Linked DNA regions of Homo sapiens: regions 1, 2 and 3 are each linked to region 4. The links come from fine-mapping of genetic effects on gene expression. A gene starts in region 4. Each other region holds a variant in brackets. All regions are shown on one strand. Distances are between the middles of the regions. Region 1 overlaps HPS3 (HPS3 biogenesis of lysosomal organelles complex 2 subunit 1). Region 2 overlaps TM4SF4 (transmembrane 4 L six family member 4). Region 3 has its middle 14 kb from the start of TM4SF1. Region 4 holds the start of HPS3 (HPS3 biogenesis of lysosomal organelles complex 2 subunit 1).

What was found. PIP is the estimated chance that this variant, and not a neighbour inherited with it, causes the effect.
Region 1: its variant is the best candidate, but not a certain one, in a credible set for the expression of HPS3 in testis (GTEx, PIP 0.90).
Region 2: its variant is the best candidate, but not a certain one, in a credible set for the expression of HPS3 in whole blood (TOPMed, PIP 0.51).
Region 3: its variant is the best candidate, but not a certain one, in a credible set for the expression of HPS3 in regulatory T cells (Bossini-Castillo 2019, PIP 0.64).

What each region holds. Positions count from the first base shown.
Region 1 is chr3:149,152,250-149,157,249 of GRCh38, forward strand. It overlaps HPS3 (HPS3 biogenesis of lysosomal organelles complex 2 subunit 1), which reads left to right. Exons shown (of 17, transcript NM_032383.5): 7 at 1,245-1,399; 8 at 2,858-2,966. Among named protein-coding and RNA genes, the nearest start is that of HPS3, 25 kb to the left of the region's middle. The variant A/T (reference allele first, on the strand shown) is at 2,346.
Region 2 is chr3:149,487,558-149,495,531 of GRCh38, forward strand. TM4SF4 (transmembrane 4 L six family member 4) reads left to right here. Exons shown (of 5, transcript NM_004617.4): 3 at 62-198. It also overlaps the pseudogene EEF1A1P45. Among named protein-coding and RNA genes, the nearest start is that of TM4SF4, 17 kb to the left of the region's middle. RefSeq lists silencers at 128-177, 1,805-2,099, 6,738-6,887. The variant G/A (reference allele first, on the strand shown) is at 4,193.
Region 3 is chr3:149,359,525-149,367,498 of GRCh38, forward strand. No RefSeq gene overlaps it. Among named protein-coding and RNA genes, the nearest start is that of TM4SF1, 14 kb to the right of the region's middle. The variant A/C (reference allele first, on the strand shown) is at 4,366.
Region 4 is chr3:149,127,142-149,132,643 of GRCh38, forward strand. It overlaps HPS3 (HPS3 biogenesis of lysosomal organelles complex 2 subunit 1), which reads left to right and starts at 2,497. Exons shown (of 17, transcript NM_032383.5): 1 at 2,497-2,799. The coding sequence starts at 2,583. RefSeq lists enhancers at 2,498-2,757, 2,539-3,038.

The sequences.
Region 1 (5,000 bases), 25 kb after region 4:
CTCCTTGCGTTTTCAAACCTCAGAAAGACATAGGCTTATATAGGGGTGATGGTGTAATTTAAAGTACCTAATAGATTGAAGTAGGATCAATGTACCTTTGGAAAAAAAATAATTCCATGTATTTTCAGAGTCTTATAAAAGGCAGAATGAAGGAACAAGGAAGAGACAAAGGGGAGGGATAAGGAGAGGTGGGCATCTGGTGGAGGTATGCTGCCCTTGAGGCCAGTGGAGGTAGGAGGGGGAAGGCATAATCACACCTCACGGTTCCTCCTTTCCTGGGACTCCACCAGTTCTGAAGCCCTAGGTGCCAGTTAAACAAGCACACGTTTAGCCCACCTGCTGACTCAGGCTTTGGAGCTGTGATGTCTGAAAAAAGTTTCACAACCTCAAGAGTCTGGTTGAAAGTGCTTGTGGTCTGTCTCCTTTTCCTCTGAGATTCTGACTCCTCAGCACTAACCAAGCCACCTTAACTATTTTTACATGGAGGTAACAATGAAGATGACCTCAGAATCAAAACAGCATGCATGGACAAGAAGGCAGGGTCCTGGCAGCATCATTTTGTGAGCTCCCAGAATAGAGCTCTTCCATTAGTTTTCTTATTCATTCTACTTGAATTAATGGTCCTTTACAAGAGCAAAAGGCTGGCTCCTCTAGTTTACCTGACATGTCCCAGCCTGTCCGCCATTCCAGGCACTATTCGTACCTAACAGACTAACAGTCAGGGGCCATCGGAACATACAAGCATTTCTTTCACACACACATCCGCAAAGAAACCATTTTATGTACTCTACAAGCAGTAGAATGTCCTTTCATAGTGTCTGGTTTTTCCTAAAAACCCCATTTGGGCGTACCCCCAACCATCCTGCTAGTTGTGGGGGTTTCCCTGGGTGGCAGAGTACCAGCTTCATCTCCTGGAGGTATCTGTGGAGCCACTCTGTGGGGCACACACACAAGTTCCTGCAGCTGTGGGACCCTCTTTCCGTATTTATTCAATCAATCAATAACTGAGTTTGTTGGCTGAGTAGCTCTATGGAATACACTATTGGTTACATAGGTTTAGATAACCTCTTCTGTTAAGAATAGGAATCTGGGTTGGTCTTTTGTTTGTTTGTTTGTTTTTTGGTGGTGGTGGGTATGGGATGGTGGCAGCAGAAGAGATTTGATCAAATAAACTGACTGATTTTTGAAGATTGAAGTGCATGTACCTTTATTTCTTGCTTAAATATGTGATTTTCCTTTACTAGGCTTGCCCACCTGTCAGTATGGATGTCTGTGCTTTAAGAATACAGCTTTTCATAGGCTTGAAAGCCATCTGTCACTTTAAAAACCACATCATACTTTTGACTAAAGCAGAACCTGAAGCCATTCCAGAGAGAAGACAGTCACCCAAGAGGCTTCTGTAAGCATCCCCTTGCCCCAGGCATTCCTGCCAGTTTCTGGAATGAGTTGTAACTGGTATATTTTGTGTTTATCTTTTTTCAAATCATAACTTGGAATGATCAAATGGCTTTTTTATGGTGGTCTTTTTCCAGAGAAAGAAAAGAAGGTTCTAACAATCTCTGTAATACACTTTATAACTGACCTGGAAACTTTTAGGAGAAAATGGATTATAAAATAGTTTCAGTAAAAATCAAAGGTGTTTTAGATTAGTTAAAGGCCATGCTTTTCTGTGTAATTAATGAGAAAGACTGAGCCTATAATGCTAATTGAAACTACAGGACTTTTTACTGTCTTTCTTCTTTGACCCTTTCAGTTGTTACATTTTTATCTAAAATTATTTTCTGATATTATGAAAGAAATTAATAATGTATGTCTTACCTTAAAGCACATTTATGATCTATAGATATGTGCTCATGTATCTGAAAATAAAGTTGTATTTTGATAACATTCATCTCTTGTTATTTATTAGGTTTCTGCTTTCCCATTGTTTAGAATAGAATGCTTAATTCCAGACTAGTTATGCTTCTATTTGATGTTTTCCTACTTAGTGGTAGAGAATGCAATCTAATTTCTCTAAGGAAAATTTAATCAAGAAAGAAATCTCTTCAGGGAGTGAAGCATATAGTGTATTTCATATCAAACATGGGTTATTTTTAACATAGATTTTTACTTTTTCAAATTGTTAGTGGCTGTGCTTTGTTGCATCAACAGGAATCAGAGGTTGACTTTGGTAACTGATCACTTTGAGTGTACACAGAGTGGTCTGGGGCTGACTGATCCTAAAAGCTTTCTGGGGAGAGGAAAAGCAGTTTGTAGTCTTGCACATTTGACATTCTAATAGTATAATTTTTTAAATGATGTTTTAAAAATTCTAATTCATTTGAAAATTCATTTGATAAACAATT[A/T]TAAAAGATTGTACACTAAAGAAAATGTATCACATAGTGAAAGCAAGAGATAAGATAGTGCTTTAAGCAGACTTAACAGTTTTATGTGTCTTCATCATATTCTCAGCAGCCATGATGTTGCTTCTGCTTAGATTTGTGGCTCAGGGCATGCTAGACTCATGAAAGTCAAATGCAGAAAAGAGCCTGGGTATAGGGACTTCCGCAGTCAAGGATCTTTTCCTCTTGATGGGACTTGCCTGTTCTTTGAACTTACTGCTCATTTGAGAATACTTGCAGAGTGAATTGGAAGCAGTTGGTTTATCATTACATGAAAATTACAGAATATTAAATGCAGTTAGCCTATGTAGTATTGTGAACTAATATTCCATAGAAATAGAGTGTACAGTTAATCACTGAGGAAAATAGTAAATGAAAATGATTTTATAGTTATTTTATATCCAATATTTACCATTTACAACTACCATTTATTAATAATGTCATTTTAAAATTCTTGTCCTTTGTTTTGCTTTTAGTTCGAGAAAAGATACCAGTGTTAAAATCAAAATACCTCCTGTAGCTGAGGCTGGGTGGAATTTGTATATTGTGAATACGATCTCACCAGTGCAGCTGTACAAAGAGATGGTACTCTTTTCAAACTTCTGATTCTTGTTTGTAGATATTTAGAGTGAAATTAATGATCAGAAATTGATTCTAATTATCATACATTCAGGATGCCACAGCCATTCAGCTTCCTGGCTCTGTCTGACAGTGGAATGTATATCTCTCTCTGCCTCCTCATTGTTACAGCTTCTGACATCCGAGGAACCAGTAGAAATTCCCTTCACTAGCATAAGACTCCCTTATTCATACCCACTCTCCTAAGAAGATCGATTGGCCAATCTGAACATAGTCTTTGACCTTAATTTGAACTCTAGCAAAGATAGCTAAGAAATGGAGCAAATAAATAAATAAATAAATAAATCTAGGATTATGTATCCCTGTCCCACTCTTCTTATTTAGAAATGTTAGCACATTGTCCCAGGGCACCACAGCTACTGCAGCATTGTCCTGGGGGGAGGGACCCAGAGGGAGCATCCTTACTGATCTAAGAGTGACAGCTTCCTACTCATCCCTGGCAATTATTTTAACTCTTTATTTTGAAACAATTTCAAACTTACAGAAAAGTTGCAAGAATAAGTATATTCTTCCCAACCCTTTGGGAGGCTGAGGCAGGTGAGTTGCTTGAGGCCAGGAGTTCGAGACTAGCCTGGGTAACATAGTGAGATCCCATCTGTACAAAAAATTAAAAAATTAGCCAGTTGTGGTGGCACATACCTGTAGTCCTAGCTACTTTGGAAGCTAAGATGGGAAGATCACTTGAGCCCAGGAGTTCAAGGCCACAATGAGCTATGGTCGTACCACTGCACTCCAGCTTGGGTGACACAGCAAGACCCTGACTCTTTTGACTCTTTTTTAAAAAAGAAGAATATTCTATATATTCCCATTCCCCACACAGATTTCTCCACAGTCAACATTTTACCCTATTTGCTTCTCTCTCTCTTTTATGCACTCTGTGCTTTCTGTGCACACAGATATACATACACTGTTTTCTGATTCTTCTTCGGGAGGTAAACTGCATACATCAGTCTTTTGCCCCTAAGTACTTCAGCGTATATTTTCTAAGAATAAGGATACTCTCTTGCATACCAGAATACAGTAGTATGCTTTAATAAATTTAACATTGACACAGTGCTTTATCTGGTTTATGGTTCATAGTCTAATTTTGTCAACTGACCCAATGGCTTGATAGCATTTCCCCTTCTCCAGTTCAAGACCCAGTCTAGGATCAGGTAGTGTGTTTAACTATGATGTCTCTTTAGCCTCCTTTGAAGCTGGAATATTTCTATAGCCTTTCATTATGTTTTATGACATGAGCATTTTTGAAAAATATAATTTTCCCCTCTACTTTTTTTTTGAGAGTATTCCTTATTTAGGGTTTGCTTTTTTTTTTTTAATGGTTAGATTCAGATTATGCATTTTCAGCCAGAATATTGCATAGGTGATTTTTGTGTTAAGGGTATCACATCTGGAGGCACATGCTGTTCATCTACCCCTCTTTGGTGATGTTAATTTTTGGTCATCAGGTCAAGGTGTTGCCTGATTTGTCCCTGCCAATAATTTAATGCCAATTATTATATTAGCTGTGCCCTGTCTTTTCAGTCTTGCTTAATTGAAAGTCTTCGTTTAGGTGATTTGACCGCTAGAGTCTGAATATATTGATTGAGTCAGATTAGCTAGTGATAATTTTTATGAGCCCTCTATGAGTTATGGAAATAGATGTAGTAGAGCCTAAACTTACCAATCAAAACTAAAATAAGGGAAGAATACTCAGTCTAAATTTGAGAAAGAATTAAATCACAATTTTTTGAAGTTTATTTCAAATATTAACATGTTCACTAGTCTTACTGAGATCAAATTGTTGCTAAGTTTACAGTATTATTAGTATTACAGTATTATTTGGACCTCTGTAATGATTAGAGCTGTTTAACAAGGTATTATTTATAATCATGTATGTATTAAACTGGCTCATAGATGGTGGGAAAAAAGCCCTACAGCTAAGCCCTTGTCAGAATGGTGAATAACCATTTTGTTTACTTTTAGGGTTTAATATGTCCA
Region 2 (7,974 bases), 360 kb after region 4:
TTGTTGAGTGTATCCTCTGGACCACCTGGAGAATGTGACTGTCTCTCTTCCTCTCTTTCAGATGTTCACCTCCACGATATTTGCTGTGGTTGGATTCTTGGGAGCTGGATACTCGTTTATCATCTCAGCCATTTCAATCAACAAGGGTCCTAAATGCCTCATGGCCAATAGTACATGGGGCTACCCCTTCCACGACGGGTAAGGCCACACCCTGCAATGCCCACCTGTCACCACAAGGGGCATGGGCAGATAAATTGCCCAAGGGGAGACTGCACACAATGCCATGTCTTCATCCTTATGCAAGCCTCAGGCTCGGTGCTCCTTTGAGGCAGAGATGGAGTTGTGGAATACAGCAAAGTTGCATAGGCTCTCACCTCTAATTGCTCCTTTGACAGACCCCAGGAGAAATAACTAAAAGAGGACGGATGCCTCCTTTGGCCTGAGGGAAGGAAGAGATTTGTTGTGTCATCACTTGCACCCAAATATTTATTAGCAGCAACACAAGGCAACTAATAATATTAATAAACAGAGTAATAGTTTTCATTACAAATCTCATAATAGAAAACAAGAATAATTAACCACTAACTGGGCCCAAGGGCTTTCATTAATACCCCAAATTGCCTATAATTAAACAATCATTTAAGTGCAAATGTACAGAAAATGACATTGAAATCATTGTAGGTTTCTCATGTTAATGTTAATAGACTCATTAAAATAACATTTCATGTTTTCATGGTACTTTGTAGATTGTAAAGACCTTTATCCCACAAATTTATAATTTAATCTTCATAGTAACCTCAAGAGGTAATTACTCTGTGCCAAGGCAGGCTTAATAAGCTTAACTAGCTTCAAAGTCACATTGTTAGTTGAGGACAGTGCCAGGGCTCAAACTCAGGACTTCTGACTTCAAGTCTTAGCCTTTCATAGTACACATCCTCCTGTCCTGCACTGACCAGGACGGCACTGTTCAGTCCAGTAGCCAGCAGCCATATGGAGCTATTTAAACTCAAATTCATTTATAGAAATAAAGTTAAAAATTCAGTTCCTTAATCACACTAGCCATATTTCAAGTACCCAGTAGCCATATAGGGTTTGTAGCTACTGTATTGAATAGCACAGATCTAGAACATTTCCATCATGGTAAATGGATCTGTTAGGCAAAGCTGCACTAGACTTTAACCTCCAAGGGGGCTTGGAGCATTTTTGTTTTGTTCACCGTCTCAGCCCCTCTGCCTGACAGTGACTGGCACATCCCACAGAGTCAGGAAATATAACTATAGGGTCTTTCTGCACATGAAGAATGGATTTGTGCCTAAAAAAAATCTGTAGAACACCAATATATTAACTCAAACCTCTACGTATTCATTTACTGTGAGATCCTAAAGAATCTTAAGAACAGGCTTCAGGCTGGGGAAGTGAAGGGGCCTAGTTCTCTGTGATACATGGTCTTGGTTTGTTCACAGACGTCCCACATGAAATATCCCCATCTTTCTCATAGTTAAGCAATACAAGGTCTCTAACATCCTCATACCTTGTGCAGCGGTTTCCAAATACATTTAGTTTACTGTGTGAAAAGCCCTCTTATCATGCAGAGAGGACTGTTGGGGCTACACTACCATGGGGTTGGCTTGCTTGAGCATCAAACTCAGATCCCAGCAGGCTGAGCCCCCACAACCCGCCCCCATTGAGGCTCTTCCCCTGACAGCTCACTCTCTCCACCTAGGGGTGTGTGTGTGAAGCTACAGATTATGTCTTTCTTCAAGGAGCCCTCTATTAATTCCAGCAACATCAGTGCCACAGTAAACATATTTTTCTATTTTTTCTGTTATGTGAATAATACTACCCTAGGAATTTAAAGTCAATTGAAATAAATCTATGTCCAAAACAAAGGAGGGAGAAAGAAAACAAAACAGATGCCAAAAAACACTCCAAAGCCATACAATGGCCTCACATGTTCTGACTGCAGGAACTAACACCCTCCCCTCACACACGCACGCCCTACTTGGGATGGGATGGGATCAATGCCCAAGATCAGGAGTGACAGCTGGCCTGTGGGTCACCACACGAAATGCCAAACTGAGGGAAGGACAGGAAACGACTTTTGGAAGTTCTTCATATTAGTACTTCTGGAGAAGCAAGTTTTCATTCTCATTGCAGCCATTTATTGTGTATTGCTCTGTAATAGATGCTTTCAAATATGTTATTTTATCTACCCCTCACAACAGCAACTAACCAGCATCAAGAACAGGTACCAGATTATAAAGATTTGATAATAAAAACAGAATAGGGTAAACCTTGCAGGCAAGCGGGAACATTTCAGAATTCTCTATTTATCTCCTGTTCACTGTACAGCTTTGATAATTACCTGAAGGGAGAATGATTTGAACACCGAGACATCTGTACAGCTGCTTCAAACTATAATGTGATAAAAAATTACTGTACAGGGATGTATTACAAAACCGTATATATCACAGTTTCCAGATGATTTATAGGCTATTTAAGAATGATTTTGACTACTTATGTTTTAATTTAATCCCTTGTAAGATGTAAGACTGCTCTTTGTGCAAGGTATAAAATATGCCATGATGGTTACAGGAAGGGCATTCAGGGGATGGGCCCAGGTTTCACTGCACCCTCTTTGCCATCTGGCAAACCTTCAGCAGCATTCTGTTGTCTCCTCAAATCCTGTTTCCTCCCTTCTGAGACAAGAGCTCACATTCCTTTTTGATGTTATCTACTACTGCCAGCTCCAAATCTTCCCTCTAACTGCAGAAGTTCACCTTGAATTTCTTATGGCAATAATTGAAACTTCTATTGCTTGGTGTTTTCAGTTAACAAAGTGCTGTCACCTATATTGTTTCATTTGATCCTCACAAAAAGTTTATGAGATTGTTTAACTCTCCTTCAGAGGCAGGACAGCCAAGGCCCAGAGAGGACAAGTGGCTTGCCAAGAGGAATACAGTTTCTTAGTGGCAGAAGCTCAAATCCAAGTTTTCTCACTCCAAGTCACAGTGCTTTTTCTAGAACACAGTTTATATTGACTCATATTGTCTGCTTTTTGCCTAGATTCCCTGTTGGCAAAACTCATGGGATTCTACCTCCTACTCCTTTTACTATACAGTACTATACTGGTATCTGATAGTTAAAAAGGGTGTGTGGACTCTTCTTATCCACATAAGCATATAGTAACTGTTGTTATAGCTGCAAACCTAACACTCATACACAGCTGCTCAGAGAGTAGAAAGGATCAGTCACTTGTATGAGCCAAAAACAAGAAAACTCAAGACAGTTGTCATTTGTCCCTTATTACCAAAGGGCAGCCATGGTAGCAACTGCTTCTTCTTCTTGTTCTTGTTCTTCTTCCTCTTCCCTCCCCTCTTTTTCTTCTTTTCCTTCTCTTTTTTCTTTCTCTCCTCTTCCTCCTTTTCCTTCTTTTTCTTCCCAGTGAGTAAGTGCTAAGTGTTTTTATGTGCATTATCTCACCTAATCTTCCTCATAAATCTGAGAAGAATTTTTATCCCTGAAGGAGAAAAATGAAGCTCAAGAAGGTTAATTTTCCCAGGGCTCCATGGCTAGTAATTAGTAAAAGGATTTTTTTTTTTAATTAGCTGGGAGTGTTGGCTCATGCCTGTAATCTCAGCACTTTGGGATGCTGAGGTGGAAGGATTGCTTGAGCCCAGGAGTTCAAGACCAGCTTGGGCAACATAGGGAGAACTCCCTGCTCCAGCGCCCCTCTACAAAAAAAAAAAATTAAAAAATTAGCTGGGCATGGTTGTGCATGCCTGCAGTCCCAGCTACTCCAGGTGCCTGATGTGGGAGGATCGTTTGGGCCCAGGAGGTCAAGGCTGCAGTAAGCCATAATCATGCCACTGCATTCTAGCCTGGGCAACAGAGCCAGACCCTGTCTCAAACAAAAAACAAAACAAAACAAAACAAAACAAAAATATATATATATACACACACACACATTTATATATCTACATATGCACATATCTACTTTTATATATGTGTACATATATATACACACACACATATATATATGTAGTCAGTATCTTATTTTGTGCTGAAGCCTATCTCAAACATGGAACAAAAAACGAATAGACATGGTTCCTTTCCTATCAGCATATGGGTTAGGGTGAACACATGGAACAGATCCTCATAATGCAGAAAGTGTGAGATGGAGAAGGAGTGC[G/A]GGGGGAAACTTCTTCGAGAAGGTGACATGGGCTGATTTTGGAGGATGAGCAGAAGTTTGCCTTCCAGTGAGGAAGGAGAAGCACATTTCAGGCATGAAAAGGCTGACATGCTCAGGGAACCTCAGAGCACTGTGTGGCAGAAGCTCAGTGTGAATGAGGAGAGATTTGCAGAAGGGGCCGCCACACGATGTGGTGAGACTGAGAGGCAGCCAGACCTTCAGGACATCAGGGCACAGCAGGGGACTTCAAGCAAGACATGGCATGGCTACTTTGGACTTTTAGAGGCATGATGGTTCTAGTGATGTGGAAAGTGAATAGGAGGATTCAGGAACTAAAGAGAGATAAAAGCTGGCATCATAATCCAGATAAGATGATGAACATCACCCAGGCAGCAGAATTGGGGCTCAAAAAAGACAAATTTCAGAGAATGTTTGAGATGGAGTCATCAGGTTTAGGTGTGAGGAGAAAAGAGGAAGGTAATCAAGGTGGACTCTGAGATTTCGAACTTAGTGCACAAAATCCAGGGCTCTGCAATGCCATAGCATTTAGCACTGTTTTCCTCAGAAATGTTTTTTGGTGATAATATTAAGGGAGGGAGCAAAAGTAGTTAACTCATTCTGTCCTGAGAACCATATTAAAGAACACCCTAGAAGGAAAAAGAAACCTGGGCATTTTGAAATATACCCTCTTGGTTTCCTTTGAAGTAGAACCTCCTCCCATCCAAGGTCTTCCTCCCTGAGACAATTGGCCATCCCTCCCTTGACCCTGAGCTGCTGAAAGGAAAGCAGCCTGCACAGGGTGTGGGGACAGCCATAGGAGGGGAAGCAGAGGATGAGCCAGGAGTGGTCAGTAGTCAGGGAGGGACGGGGCTATGCATGGCACTCCTGGGCCAGGCTGCAACTCTTTACCTCCTTAGAAAGAGTCAAGGGCAAGGAGAGCACCCTCACATCTGTGGTTCAGACACCGAGACACTGAACTGAACACAGTTAAATGTTCTGCCTTGACATTCAGCTAAGACCATCTGGATTTGCACTTCAGAAATTACTTATTAGCAAAGAACATCATAAGCTGCTTGTAAACATATTCCCAAGAGCTGAAAGCCACCTTAATAGGATGAGATTGGATTTGCACCATGTAATCTTAGCTTTCATGAACCAGAAACAGTTCACAAATGTTAGGAGCCAGTTTTGCCCTTGGCTGACTTAGGGTCTAGCCACACCTCTGCCATATACCATTTATCTCTCAGGCTTCATCTGTGAAATGAATGGGAGTAACAGCAACATCCACCTCACAGGTTCAGGTAAGAGTAAATAACACAAGGTACATAAAGCACTCAGCACAGTTCCTACCACATACTTGCTTGATTCAGCCTTATTATTCATTTTTATGAATATAAAGTATTATGGTAAATGGAATTTATTTTTATGCATTAAAACTTTAAAAATGTTATGCTTTTATAATGATTCTGTGACTTAATTTCAACCAGGCATAAATAAGGCTCAAAAAAAACCTCTTTATTGTGATATAAGTAACCCTTGATTCACATACTATTATAGATGTATAAATCAAATGTCATAAATAAATCATTTCAAATATGCTAAGGAAATAACTACTCCAACAAAGGGCATTTGTGTAATGGGTCAGAGCACTGGATTTGGAGTCAGACAGACCTAAGTTCAAACCCAGGCACTTCCATTTACTAGCCTCACCTTCTTAATCTGTAAAATGGGTATATGTTCATTCATTCAGTGAGTGTTTACTGAAGGTTACTCTATGCCAAGCACTGTTCAAATAAAGTAGCATCTCCTTGGAGCATTAGGAAAGATGATGGAAAGCAGCTAGCCCAGAGCCTGGCACTAGAGGACCCAGGAAATGAGAGCTGCTGCTATTTATGAAGCACTGCCTGTGCTGGAACTGGGGACAGAGACAGTGGCACATGGTCTTTGCCCTTGGAAGTTTATCGTCCTGAAGAGAGGACAAACAAATGGACAGGTGATGGCAGCGCAGGGTCCAGGGGCTCTGTACAACAGGGGCGGAAACACAGAGCGCTGGGGAGCACAGAAGGAAACCAAACCCAGGCTGAGGGCAGAAGCATTGTGGAGCTTCTCCCAGAGGAGGTGGCATCTGAATTCACCAGACAGAGCGCGCCAGCAAAGCATTCGTATTCAGGCCCCCTGGTTTCTGTCTTCAGCTGAGAAGAGAGTTCTGTGAAATTCGTGCCTTTCTGCTCCCACTTTGATGGGATTACTACAGCTCAGGTGGAAATACCTGCATAATAATTGGATGCTTTAAAATGTCAGTTAAGTGCATCTAAACTGCTTCTGCTCTCCTTGCTTCACTGCCAGGTCCATGAAAAACTGAGGACCCCTCTCTCCCTGGGTTTGGGGAGTTGGACACAGTGATCAAACTGAACGTGAACACAGGCTTTTTTGCCAGACTCTCAAAGACTGCCAGAACCAGAGAGTTTGAAGGGAGAGAAGAAGGGCCTGAGTGTGGCTATGTGGTGGTTTGTGAGGGGTGAGGCTGCAGCAGGAGTGGAACTCATGATTTCTCCAGGCAACCAAATTCAATCCTTGCTTCTACGTTCGCCGTAAACGTTTCACAAATCCTACCACCAGGAGGTGCTGTCATGCCACTGCTGTGCAGGCTCTCCAAAGAGGCCCGAAACTCAGGATTGCCAATTCTTTCACCTCAGGATCTTTTCTTCATAAAGTGTGCCTGGAAAATATTGCATCTTTATAACCTTTTATAATTACCAAGTTTTAAAATTGTAAAGATAGAAAGGACTAAATGGAAAAATGCAGAACAGAAAGATGGGTGTTTCATGTTGGAAAAAAAAAGGCATTTTCACAACGGGTTTGCCACCAAAACACAGGTGTCATGAAAACCACCCCTAAATCAAAACCAAAATGGGAAAGAAAAGGATTCATATCAATATCGTCGTTATTGGACACGTAGATTCAGGTAAGTCCACTGCTACTTGCCAACTGATCGACAAACATGATATAAATCACCAAAGAACCATCGATGAATTTGAGAAGGAGGCTGCTAAGAAGGGAAAGAGCTCTTTCAGGTATGCTTGGGTCTTGAATAAATGGTAAGATGAGTGTGAGTGTGACACATCACCCTGTGGAAGTTTGAGACCAGCAAGTACTGCATGAGTCATTGATGCTCAGGACAGAGACTTTATCAGAAACATGATTACAGGCACATCTCAGTCTGACTGTGCTATCCTGATTGTTGCTGTTGGTGTTGGTGAATCTGAAGCCGATATCTCCATGGGCAGACCCATGAACATGCCCTTCGTGCTTACACACTGGGGATGAAACAACCAATTGTTGGTGTTAACAAAATGGATTCCACAGAGCCCCTCTACAGCCAGAAGAGACATGAGAAAATCATTAAGAAAGTCAGCTCTTACATTAAGAAAATTGGCTACAACCCCAGCACAGCAGCAGCTGTACCAATTTCCAGTTGGAATGGTGACAATATGCTAGAGCCAAGTAGTAACATGCCTTGGTTCAAGGGATGTAAAGTCACCCATGAAGATGGCAATGCCAATGGAACCATGCTGCTTGAAGGTCTGGACTGTGTCCTACCACCAACTCATCCAACCGACAAGCCCTTGCATCTGCCCCTCCAGATGTCTACAAAGTTGGTGGCATTGGTCCCTATGTGCTAAGTGGAAACTGGTGTTCTCAAACCCAGCATGGTGGTCACCTTTGCTCCAGTCAACGTTACAACTAAAGTCTGTTGAAATGCACCATGTTGCAAGCTCTTC
Region 3 (7,974 bases), 230 kb after region 4:
AACAAGTGGCCAACAGGTTTATGAAAAGGTGCTCAGCATCACTAATCATCAGGAAAATGCAAATCAAGACCACAATGCCATATCACCTCACACCTGTTAGGATGACTATTATGAAAAAGACAAGAGATAACAAACATTGTCAAGGGTGTGGAGAAAAGGGAACCCTTGCGCACTGTTGGTGGGAATGCCTTTAACATGAGTACAGCCATTATAGAAAACAGTATGAAGCTTCCTCAAAAAAATAAAACTAGAACTAATATATAATCTAGCAATCTCAATTCTGGGTTTAATACATTCAAAGGAAATGAAATCAGTACCTTGATGAGATATCTATACTTCCATGTTAATTTCAGTATTAAGTGTCCATTGACAGATGAATAAAGAAAATATATATGTGAAATATTTAAGTCATAAAAAAATAAGTAAATTCTTCAACTTTCAACAACATGGGTGAACTTGCAGGACATTGTGCTAAGTGAAATAAGCCAGATATAGAAAGAAAAAAATACTGCAGGATCTCACTTATATGTAAAATCTTAAGAAGTTGAACTTATAGAAGCAGAGGATAGAATGATGGTTGTCAGGGGTCTGATGGTGGGGAAAATCAGGAGATGTTGGCAAAAGATACAGACTTTCTGATATAAGATAAGTAAATTCTGAGGATTTAATGTACAGCATGGTGCTTATAGTTTATAATACTGTATTGTATACTTGAAATTTGCTAAGAGGGTAGATTGTAAGTGTTCTCACTGCACGCATACACACACACACACACACACACAGAAATGGTAACTATGCGGAGTGATGGATGTGTTAACTTAATTGTGGTAATCAATTCACAATGTATATGTATATCAAATCATCACATTCTACATCTTGAATATATAAAATTTTTATTTATTCAGTTATACTTCAATAAAGCTGGGAAGAAGAATCCCAAAGTCCTGTGAGGAAGGGGAAAATGGGGCAAGAACTAAGGAGGCAATTGTATAATAGAACTACAGTTCTAATTTTTTGTGGCCAAAGTAATCATATCTGACACATAACTTTATAGTTTATGATGAATTTTCATATGGGATCTAATTGAACCATCCCAATCTTGGTATTCAGGTAGAGATAATATTATAATCTCTATTTTACAGATTAGGAAACTGAGGCTCAGAGAGAAAAAGTGACTTGTCCAAGATGAGCAACCACGACCCAAACAAAAGATTCTTGAGTGAAGCCCAGCACCCTGTTTCTTCAGTTATTCAAATCATATGGTTGCTCAGCTACTTAAAGCTACTTTCTATGTACTTCACAGTTGTTATTTAATTCCCTGTGACATTAAGAACACAGTTGTCATTTAATTCTCTGTGACATTAAAGAGAGACTAATTTCCAAAGAAAAAAAATTAATATTCACAAAGCCAAATGGGAGAAAAAAATGCCTACTTCTGGTCTATGGGAACTGCTTAGTTTGCTGTACCTTCAAACCTGTTTCTGAGTGTTGCCAATGGAAGAGTGGAAGATGGGGAAACATGGAAAGGGTGGTGGTTAAGGAGGGCCCAGGGAGCCTCTGCAGCCCTCCTTATTCTTTTTCTCTGTACCTGAGCCCAGTTCTCCCACCTGGCATGGCTCTACAACCATGAAACCCTGATGCCCTCACATGCATAAGAAGCCCTGACAAAGTGGATGTGGATATTTCTCTCACTCTGCAAAATGAGACTCACGATGACCTGCAATGTGATGCTTCTTTGGGCCAAAAAAAAAAAAAAAAAAAAAAAAAACACAAAAAACCACCCAATTGCTTTCAGGTTGCCTGACTCACAGGGCACCTTGATGCTCTGGCCAGGGACACTGAAGACTGAATCACCTAGCTTGCCTTTGCAGAAACTATTTACTAATATGTCATTTCATTTCTGTCTTTTTCCAACCTTAAGCTTTATGTGCCCCTCATCCACAGCATGTCCTTGCCGCCCATGCCTCTACTCCCATGCATAAAAGGAGGCGTAGGCAAATGTACATGGAAGTCTCTTTTCAACCTCTGCAGGGGATTGTAGGTGAAATATACTATTGCCCACACTTATGTACAAGGATACCCTATGATAAGCATTACTGGGATTAAGAAATATTGAGCGGTATTTCTATCTCTGAAATTCTATTGTCTCTCCCACTTAGAGAAGACTATTACAAGTCAGCTACGATAGGACTTTTTTTCTCCAAAGTTGTGACATTGGAAATCAGGACTCCCCTTACAAACCCAGGTAGCTGATTTGTTTAAAGGACACATAGTATTTTCCTAGAGAATTGGAGCAAGAACAACAGGGTAGAAGCCCTGCAGACCTGTTTGAGTGCAGAAGACACGGACAAAGCATATCCGTGTTCCCATCCACTGAACAGGCAGCAGCTAATAATGTAATGAATTCTCTTCTGTCATCCTAAGCTTTTGGTTGTCGTTGAAGTACTCTTCTGAACTCCACCTATTATCATTTAATGAGTGTTTGCTATGTTTCCAGCTCTGTGCTTTTTTTTACATCTGCTATTCATTCTCTTTCCAAAGCTGTAGCCCCACGGTCTCATAGTTAAATAATTCAGATGTTTTGAGTTAAATAGGTTTTTACAACAAGACTTTTCAGAGCTAGTGGAAGGTCCATGTGTGTAGTGAATCTTTGGGAAGATTTATTTGGTATATATTATTTCCCAGATTTTTTCAAGGGCGTCTCATAAGACATGTTTAGTTCAGAAGATGCTACTGAGGTCTCAGAGACTGCTATCTCTTTCTCTGTTATGAGTTGAGTTGTGTCTTCTTAAAAAAGACATGTTGAGGTCCATACACTTTAGAGTGCGACCTTTTTTGGAAATACAGGCTTCACAGAGGTAATCAAGTTAAAACGAAGTCATTAGAGTGAGCCTTAATCCAACATGACTGGTGTCCTTATAAAAAGGAAGAAATTTGGACAGAGAGGCAGACATGAGGGATGACAATGTGAGGAGACACAGGGAGAAGATGACCATCTACAAGCCAAGGAATGTCTGACGTTTCCCGGAGCTAGGAGAGAGGTCTGTAACTGATCCTTTCCCAGTGCCTTCAGAGGGAGCATGAGCCTGCTGACACGATTTCAGACTTCTGGCCTCCAGAAACATGAGACAATATATTTCTGTTTTTCTAAGCTACCTACCAGTTTGTCGGACTTTGTTTTGGCAGCCCTAGGAAACTCATATGTTCTTCTAGCTGGGTGGTGGGTAAATCAGGCTCAGTTTCTCCCCTCTTTACTTCTTTATTTTAAAAAATATATTGGAAAACTTCTATCATAAGTATAAAATTAACAAAAATTTATCTCCTTTTCCATTGTAATAGAAGTATCCATTTTTATCTAGGCAAATAGCCAGCTACATTAGAAACAAACTTTTCCCGCAAAAGACCACAGAATAAATATTTCAGGCTTTGTGTGACATGTAGTCTCTGTCAACTGTTCAGCTCTGCCATTATAGGGGAAAAGCAACCATACACAACATGTAAACAAAACAGTGTTGCTGTATTCCCATAAAATTCCATTGACAAAGCAGGCAGCAGACCAGATTTGTCCCGTGGGCCATAGTTTGCTGACCCCGGATTACTGAGCACCTACTATATGCCAGGCACTATTTTAGAAGTTGGCAATGCAATAGTGAGCAACACAGTCAAGGTCTCTGCTCTCACAGAGCCTGGAAAATCTTGTTCACAGCTGTGTCCTCAGCACCTTGTGCAGTGCATGACATGCAATGAACAATCCATAAATACTGAATCAGTGAGTGACTGGAAGTCCCCCAGGCAGGAAGAGATGAGCCAAACCTTGAGAGTGCTAGGCTAGAGGAAAACTCTGGGAACCTTGGGATGCTAACTAACACAAAACAAAAGAAGCTCCACTAGCAGTTTGATTCCTTGACAACAAACAAACAAACAAACAAACAAAAATCAATGTGTTCTCATACGCACCGAATGCACCAAAAGACATGTACAAAAATGACCACAGCAGCATATTTCCTAAGATCCCTGAAAACAGCTAAGATCCCTGAAAGCAACTCAAATGTCCATCAATAGAATGATGGATATTATTCTACCCCATTGAAACATTTCACACACAAGTTTTGTGTTTTATTTTTATTTATTTATTTATTTATTTTTCATGTCAATGAATTCAAAGGAATCACACATAGGTTTTTGTATAGAAACAGCACTACATTTCTGTAAGAGGTGCTTTTTCAAGATATCTATGTTCACTAGTTGTAGCCTACAACTAGAAGGCTCTGTGTCAAACATTCCACTTGCTACTAATTCCTACCATACCCCTCTTTGTTCCCAGAACATTGTACCCCACATGTACCCCAGAACTTAAAAGTATAA[A/C]AAAAAAATAAAAAATAAAAAATAAAAAAAATAATGAAAAAACTTAAAAAAGAAGAAACGAAAACAAAAAGAAAAGGAATGGTGAGAGGAGATAACTTTGCTTTGTACACAGTCTTAGTGGGAAAGTTTCTAGTTCCTCACCTTTAAGTATTACGTTAGCTACTTTTTCATAGATGTTCTTCATCAAGTTGAGGAAGTTCTCCTCTATTTCCAGCTTGCTGGGAGTTTTTATCATTAATGAGTGTTGAATTTTGTCAAATACTTTTTCTATATCTAGTGATATAATCCTGTGATTTTTCCTCTATACCCTGTTGGTGTGATGGATTACATTACTCAATTTTCAAATGTTGCACCAGACTTTGATACCTGAAATAAATACTATTTGGTCATGGTGTTAAAAAAAAAAAAAAAAAAGAAACCCAAAGACAGGAAGCCTTCAGTAAAGATTATGATACGATTGTTTAAGACTGGGGGAAACAGCAAGGCAGGACTTTGAGTTGGTGGTTCAAAGGCTCTTGAGATATAAACTGTTGATGTTTTCTATTGAGGAGATGGTGGATCTTTCAGAGATCCCAATAATAAATAATAAAGTTATTTGCTTAGGAAAGAGTCTCCTGGAATAGTAAAACTGTGCTCAAGAAGAGTATGGAATAATAAAATCATGAGAATGTTAACAGTAAGCTGTGGAGCAGTTTATGGTTTTGATTCTCCTTGCCCAAGTTATGTGAGTCTTGGTGGAGGAGGGAGTAGATGGTTTGGGTTCTTAATATTTGTGGGATTCTTTCATGTATTGAATATATGACAGTTTATTATATGGATATCATCTATCATCTGAGACAGTAGTGGCCATTTCAATTGGCCCTTAGTCTTGCACACGAATCAAGGATATCTGTACACATGTAACAAAGAGGGGTGTGGTGAGGATTAGTAGCTAGTGTAATGCTTGACACAGAGCTTTCTAGTTGCAGGCTGCAATGACTGATCACAGGTACTTGAAATGGCACCTCTTGGGAAACTATTATTGCTCCTATACGAAAATCTGTGTGTGAAATGTTCATAAGAGATCTACTGTCTCTGTCTCAAGGAGTTAGCTACATTAGCTGAGATTACATCCAGAATTGGGGGGCAGGGAGGGAGGAGAGATTGTTTTAATTCTATTTATTTATTTATTTAAGACAGATTCTCGCTCTGTTACCCAGGCTGGACTGCAGTGGTGCCATCTTGGCTCACTATAACCTCGACCTCCTGGGTACAAGCGATTCTCCTGTTTCAGCCTTCCCAGTAGCTGAGATTATAGACATGCACCACCATGCCCAGCTAATTTTTGTATTTTTAGTTGAGATAGGGTTTCGCTATGTTGGCCAGGCTTGTCTTGAACTCCTGACTTCAGGTGATCCGCCTGTCTTGGCCTCCCGAAGTGCTGGGATTACAGGCCTGAGCCACAGCGCCTGGCCTTGATTCTCATTATTTACAAGATTCATCCACGTTGTCTCATGCAGCAGTAGTTTGTTCTTTTTAATTGCTGTATATTAGGAAAGTGTGTGTGTGTGTGTGTTTGTGTGTGTGTGTGTGTGTGTGAGAAAGAGAGAGAGAGAAAGAGAGAAAAAGAGAGAGAGAGAAATGAGAGCAAATAATTGATTCTAGGAAGTAACATGAAATCTAGCTCCAGAAAAACCTAGTAGACTTATTTAACTACAATAATTAAAATATGTGTCTAAATTTGCCAGGACTTGCATACACAAACTATTTAATGTTAAGAGAAGGAGGGCCAGGTAGGGTGGCTCACACCTGTAATCCCAGCACGTTGGGAGGCTGAGGTGGGAGGATCACGACGTCAGGAGTTCGAAACCAGCCTGGCCAACATGGTGAAACCCTGTCTCTACTAAAAATACAAAAATTAGCCAGGCATGGTGGCATAAGCCTGTAATCCCAGCCACTTGGGAGGCTGAGACAGGAGACTCGCTTGAACTCAGGAGGCAGAGGTTGCAGTGAGCAGAGAAAATTAAAATAAGGAAAATCCAAGCTGTAGTACACAAAGCCCTGATAAAAAGCCAATGTTCAAAGTAAAGGTATGCCATTTCGTTTTAAAATACAGAAAACAGATACATGGTTGATATTTGTAAAAATCTTACTTGGTGGCTTGTCTAAGAAGAAACTGTGCACTTAACATTTCCCAAACATGCAATTGAAATTATAGGCTCCCCATTATATTTTTAGCCTATGGTTACTGCCAGCCTCACCTGGCCCATCCCTTCACCTAATTGCAGGCATAATTATTCCCCTGTATTTACTGTAGGATGACTCCTCTGTCCAAGCACAAGAACAATGGTTTTCTTACATACCTGGGGAGTTTCCCTTAAAGACTGCGGGCTCCTCCCTGAATTATTTTAGGACTGAATCTTTCTTCTCATCTCATTTTTGTTTTATTTCTAAAAGTAATATGTGCTTATGGTAGAAATTTCAGAAAGTATAGATAAGCGAAATGAATCAAGACAAAAATCACATTGAATCTGATTGAAATTCCTTTTCAGTAATATATTTAAAGGGTATTTATAATATACATATACCTAGTAGAGAAAGACATAGAACCCTTCTTTTCTATATTTTCGAAACTTTCTCTTTCATGTAATGTTGTGCGGTTCATACATTTACCCTGATTTAACAGCCACTGACTACATTTATCAAACCAATTCCTTGTTATCAGAGATTTAGGCTCTTGCCATTTTTCCTGGTGTTACAAACAATACTCCCATAATTATTACTGGAAACTGAACTATTGTGAACATCCTTGATGATTTTCTTAAAATAAATTTCTACAAGTAAAAATACTTGGCTAAAGGATGTGTAGGCTTTATATATTGTAGACACAGATCACCAAATGGCTTTTCTGAAAAGTTGCATCAAATCCCATACCTGTTCTCACCATGGGTAAGCATCAGAGAAAACAATGAAAAAGATCTCACACACATACAAGAAACTCATACTGTGGTAAAGGTAGCATTCTATCAATTGTCTGAGATTTCAGTGCATGAGATTTCCTTTATGTAGGAATGTATTTGTAAATTTGGTCACTATGGTAAATTGACACTCAGAGGCCACGTGTACTATTCAAGTGATTCAGATTCTACAGTAATTTTTATTGTTTTAATGTTGTCAGGTAAGAATGAGCTGTTTTAGTACAACCCCTGAGGGAGTTTCCAGCCAAATTGAAAGGCCTAGAATATTACAAACCAGGAGCGTAGGCTATAAACAGAACTTAAGGAGGGTGTAAGGTAATTTGTGTAAGCTATTTCCTTCAGGTGATGACAATGTCTACTATTAAAAGATTCACAAACAAGGGGAAATGTTGAGTCACTCAAACTTAGGCTCTAGGATAGGGATGACTAAGGCTCTCAGGGGCCTGTCAAAGTCCCCATTAGGTGGGTGGAGTATCTGAGTGCCAGTGTAGGATAGGAGGAAGACTCTAGCCCCTGGGCCCTGGTGGCAGAGCAGGTAGATGAGGCAGAGGAGAGGAGCAGGGAAAACACCGTGTTCATGTTACACCAACTTGGAGTTAAATCAGTGTTGTTTTTTTTTTTGCTACAGTGTTTTTCATTTGCTAAAGATGTG
Region 4 (5,502 bases):
GTGCTCCAGAGATCCAGAATCCTTCTTTTCTAGGCTGGTTGAGTAGAGCTCTTTGTCCATGTTGTTGCAGAACCATTTTTGTAGCCATCCCCAGTGGTGTTGTCACCTAGAAGAAACTTGGGGGAGCTTTTTACCCACATAGCACCCTCAATCTCCCCAGCAAATACAGCTTAAAGAAGTTCTAGGGCCAGGTGCAGTGACTCATGCCTGTAATCCTAGCACTTTGGGAGGCTGAGGTGAGAGTATCGCTTGAGTCCAGGAGTTCAAGATCAGCCTGGGCAATATAGTGAGACCCTATCTCTACAAAAATTTTAAAAATTAGCCAGGCATGGTGGTATGTGCCTATAGTTCCTGCTAATCTGGAGGCTGGGATGGGAGGATTGCTCGAGCTCAGGTGGTCAAGGGTACAGTGAGCCATGATCACACTGCTGCACTCCAGCCTGGGTGACAGAGCGAAACCCCATCTCTTTAAATAAGAAAGAAAAGAAAGAAAGAGAGAGAAAGGAGGGAAGGAAGGAAGAAAGTTCTCAAGACAACCCTTTTCAACAGAGTGCTACCCTAAGTGCATGTGCTATGGGCTAAATTGTGTCTTCCCCCCAAATTCATATGTTGAATCTGTAACCTCCAATACCTCAGAATGTGACTGTATATAGAGATAGGGCCTTTAAGAAATAATTAAGGTTAAATAAGATCATAAGGGTGGGTCCTAATCTAATATGGCTGGTATCTTTATAAGACAAGGGAAGGACACCAGGGATGCAGGCACACAGAGGAAAGACCATAGGAACACATAATAAAAAGGTAGTCATCTTCAAGCCAAGGAGAAGGGGCTTCAGGAGAAACCATACCTGCTGACATCTTATCTTGGACTTCTAGCCTCCAGACCTGTGAAAATGAAATATCTATTGTGTAAGCCACCCAGTCTGTGGTGTTTTGTTATGGCAGCCCTTGCAAACAAATGCAACCTCCCGCAAGGAATTGATGGTGTGCCATTGCTGCCCCTGCATTCGTAACAGGAATACAAGTGGGCAGCTCCTGCTCACAGCTCCTGACAAACGTGGAAACCAGACACATGCCCCACCTTCCCTTGGGTAGCATGTCTCTTCCCAAAGAATCTTAGATGAGTCAGGTGCAGTGACTACAGCAAGGAAGAAGACACTATCTCTAGGAAGGAATGGGGTTCCAGGTTTTGAGCAAATCTCACTTCTTTCTCCAAAACAGACATTCTTTTTATGCAGGTGAAATTACACTAAAGTTAATATCAGTCTTCATTAGGAGAAAATTGAATTAGGATAATTAAGTCTTGAAGAAGAAAATTAAGCCAAAAAGAATAATATGGCAGATACTTGTGGAAAGGAATCTTTTTTACTATTGATTTTGATATTTGCTCTTAAGTTTTGTATCTAGAACAAATAACTTGTGGACTATTAGTCTGGTTGTTTTCCATAGGAGCCTTCTGTGATTTTTTGCAGCCCTAGTTCCTGACCTGAGCTACCTCCATGTTTACTTCTCTAACTCACTGAGTTTGACGAACCTGTTGTTTCCCATTACTTAGAGGTACTTTATTCATCTGAAGGGCCTAGGAAAGGGAGGCAAGTTTAACTTCAATCCAATTGCATCTAATTTACAAATTCTGAACTGGAAACTGACTGAAGAAAATGTTGCACTTTCATTTATGTCCCTGTGTGCCTAAATAAAACAGCATCCCTCAATCCATGCTAACACATATATTTTCTAGGTGAACTGGACAAAGTTATACTACTTGTTTTATCTAAATCTGATTTTTTTAGAAAAGGGAAAGTGTTGCGATCGTGAACTCCACGTTGAGATGTCAGGAATAGATAATTTACTGCATAGTTTTAGGAGCACTGGACTGAAAGCCAGGGGATTTCCCTCCTAGTTCTTCTATCCTCTGGGGCTCAAACTAGTCTTTTGTCAAATGCCTACAAGATGAAGTCCATGGATTCTTTCTTTCAACAAATATCTTTTTGCCAAGCACGTTCAAGGCTTTGCTCTTTCCAGCTGAACTATTCTAGAATTTCCATTATTTTAAAGCAACTCTTCAGAGTGTTTAGCCCCGAGTTGCACCCCATTTCAGTTTTTGCAACCCCATCCTCCAGAAGCTCAGGGACTACTGAAGAGACATGAATAACGCTCCTCAAAGTAAGTACAAAATGTTACAAGATAGATGATGAATTGTCAGAACGTACTCAAAAGCCAAAACATACCGCCTGGCCCAAAGCAGTAAAAGACGAAAGGCAGGGACCCAGCGGTCCCCGCACCCACCGGCCACTGAGCATAGAGCAGTGGCAAGCTCGCGCGGCGGAGTGGGAGGCGCAGAGACCGAAAGCACTGCAGCGCCAGAGCGCGGGCTGACCAGGCTGGCGTGACCGCTTTCCCGACGCCTGCCACGCCCCGCGGCGGCCTCTTTAAGTAGCGGAGCCGCGGGCGGGGCCGGCTGGCGTTCACGTGACCCGGCGTCATTGGCTCGCTCGCGGAAGTAGTCCTACATTCGCGGTCAGCGCGGGGTCTCCGGGCGCCCTGCAGGGCGGGCAGGCTGTGCCATCCCGCCGGACGTCGGGATGGTGCAGCTGTACAACCTGCACCCGTTCGGGTCGCAGCAGGTGGTGCCCTGCAAGCTGGAGCCGGACCGGTTCTGTGGCGGGGGGCGTGACGCGCTTTTCGTGGCGGCGGGCTGCAAGGTGGAGGCGTTCGCGGTGGCCGGCCAGGAGCTGTGCCAGCCGCGGTGCGCCTTCTCCACGCTGGGCCGGGTGTTGCGCCTGGCCTACAGCGAGGCTGGTGAGTAATCTAGAGAGCCAGGGGCCGCCTGGGGTCCAGCTTGAGGCCTCCTAGCTAGCGGACCGAACGTCTGGGCTGTAGCTCTAGCTAGGGATGGGACTTCTTGCTTCCCGGAATTTGCCGGATGGTCTCCCTGGGTCTGGCCGCTGATTGCTTGAAGTCGCATTGAGCTATGCGGTTGTCGCGGCAAGCATAGGTATGAGCTTGCTTCTGTCGGGGCGGAGACGCTGACATCTCTTCGTCTTGGTTTTCTGCAGAAAGGCCTCTGGCTGGATTCCACTCATCTCGGATACTTAAGCAAACAACAACAAAAAACTCTTTAGTGCATCAGATTTCAAAGACTTACCAAAAAAACAAGTAGGAATAAGGAGACTAGTACTGTATCCCGGAACCTCCAAGTACTCCCAGCTTTAACAATTATTCCAACTCTTGGCAGTTCTTTCACATCTGTACCTCCATCTACTTCCGGTCGGTTTTTGAAAGCTCACATTATGTGTTGATTTTTAAATGTGTGTAAGTAGAACTCAGACTGCCCCCCTCTCTTCTCTTAAACATCTGTGGCCGGGCGCAGTGGCTCACGCCTGTAATCCCAACACTTTGGGAGGCTGAGGCAGGCGGATCACGATGTTAGGAGTTCGAGACCAGCCTGGTCAATTTATTGAAACCCCGTCTGTACTAAAAATACAAAAATTAGCCGGACGTGGTGGTGGGCGCCTGTAGTCTCAGCTACTTGGGAGGCTGAGGCAGGAGAATCGCTTGAACCGGGGAGGCGGAGATTGCCCCATTGCACTCCAGTTTAGGCGACAGAGTGAGACTCCGTCCCAAAACAAACAAAAACAAACAGTTGTAAGAGCAGCCGTTACTCTTTCACACCAGAAATGTGAAGCAATACCAAGGAAATACTGTGTGGGTGAATCCTATTTTAGAAAAATCCAACATTTAAAACTAGATCCCTTTTAGATTACAGAAGAATTTACCATATAATTCCTTTAATACACTTACCTTCGATTCATACTTTACAAGATGGGTGTAAAGTTCAGTATTTACGTTGCAAAAGCTGGTGGCTATGCTATTAATGAAGTGGAGAACTTGAACCTGGAAGATTGGAGATCTCTCTCTAATCCCTACCCCGCAGCTGGTTCGGTGTGAGTTTATAGAAACCTTGGGGTCTGAGTTTATGTTAAAAAAAAAAAAAAAAAACAAAAAGTTGAATAAATAGATCAGTGATATCCAGACCCTGGGATTTCGTGGCTCAATTAAAAACTGTGGGGTTACCATACATAGTATCTGACTGCTTATTTTGTCAAGTAAAGACATATACAGGCATACCTTGTTTTTTTTGCATTTCACTTTGTTGTACTTTGCCGATACTGCGTGTTTTTTTCTCCCCAATTGAAAGTTTGTGGCAACTCTGTGTGGAGCAAATCTACCAGTTCCATTTTTCACACTGCATGTGCTCACTACATGTCTCTTGAGTCACATTTTGATAGTTCTTGGCAATATTTCAAACTTTATCATAATTATTGTATCTATTACGGTGATCAGCAATCTTTGATGTTACTATTGTAGTAGTTTTGGGGTGCCATGAACTGTGCCCATGTGAGATGGTGAACTTAATTGATATGTGTTGTGTATGTTCTGATTACTGCTCTGATCGTCTCTGCCTGCTCAGGCTGCCCTAGGCCCTGAGACACAACAATATTGAAATCAGGCCAATTAATAACCCTACAATGTCTTCTAAATGTTCAAGTGACACTTGGACGTCTCTCACTTTAAATCAAAAGCTAGAAATGATTAAGCTTAGTGAGGAAGGCAGGCGTGTCAGAAGCTGAGATAGGCTGCACGGTAGGCCTCTTGGACCAAACACTTAGCCAAGTTGTGACTGCAAAGGAAAAGTTCTTGAAATTAAGTGTTACTCCAGTGAACACAAATGATTAGAAAGCCTTATTGCTGATAGGAAAAAAACTTTGCTCTAGGTAGAAGATCAAGCCAGCCAAAATACTCCCTTAAGCCCAGGCTTAATACAGAGCAAGGCCCTCTGTTCAACTCTGTGAATGCTGAGAGAGGTGAGGAAGCAGCAGAATAAAAGTTTAAAGCTAGCAGAGTTCAGCTCATGAGGTTTAAGGGAAGAAGCTGTCTCCATAATATAAAAGTGCAAGGTGAAACAGCAAGTGATGATGTAGAATCTGCAGCAAGTTATCCAGAAGTCCAGAAGATATAGCTAAGATGAGTTTATGGAGGCAGCTGTGCTAAACAACAGATTTTTTCAGTGTAGACAAAACAGTCTTAAATTGGAAGAAGATGCCATCTAGGACTTTCTTGGCTAGAGAGGAGAAGATAATGCCTGGCTTCAAAGAACAGGCTGACTCTTGTTAGGGGGTGATGCAGCTGGTGACTAAATTGAGGCCAGTTCTCATTTACCATTCTGAAAATCATAGGGCCCTTTTAAAAATTATGCTAAATCTACTCTGCCTGTGCTTTAGAATGAAAAAAGCCTGGGTGACAGCACAGCTGTTACAACATTGTTTACTGAATATTTTAAGCCCACTGTTTTGATCTACTGCTCAGAAAACAATATTCTTTTCAAAAGATTACTGCACATTGACAATGCACCTAGTCCCTCAAGACCTCTGATGGAGATGTAGAAGGAGATTGATGTTGTTTTTATGCCTGCTAACACAGCATCCATTCCGCAGCCCATGG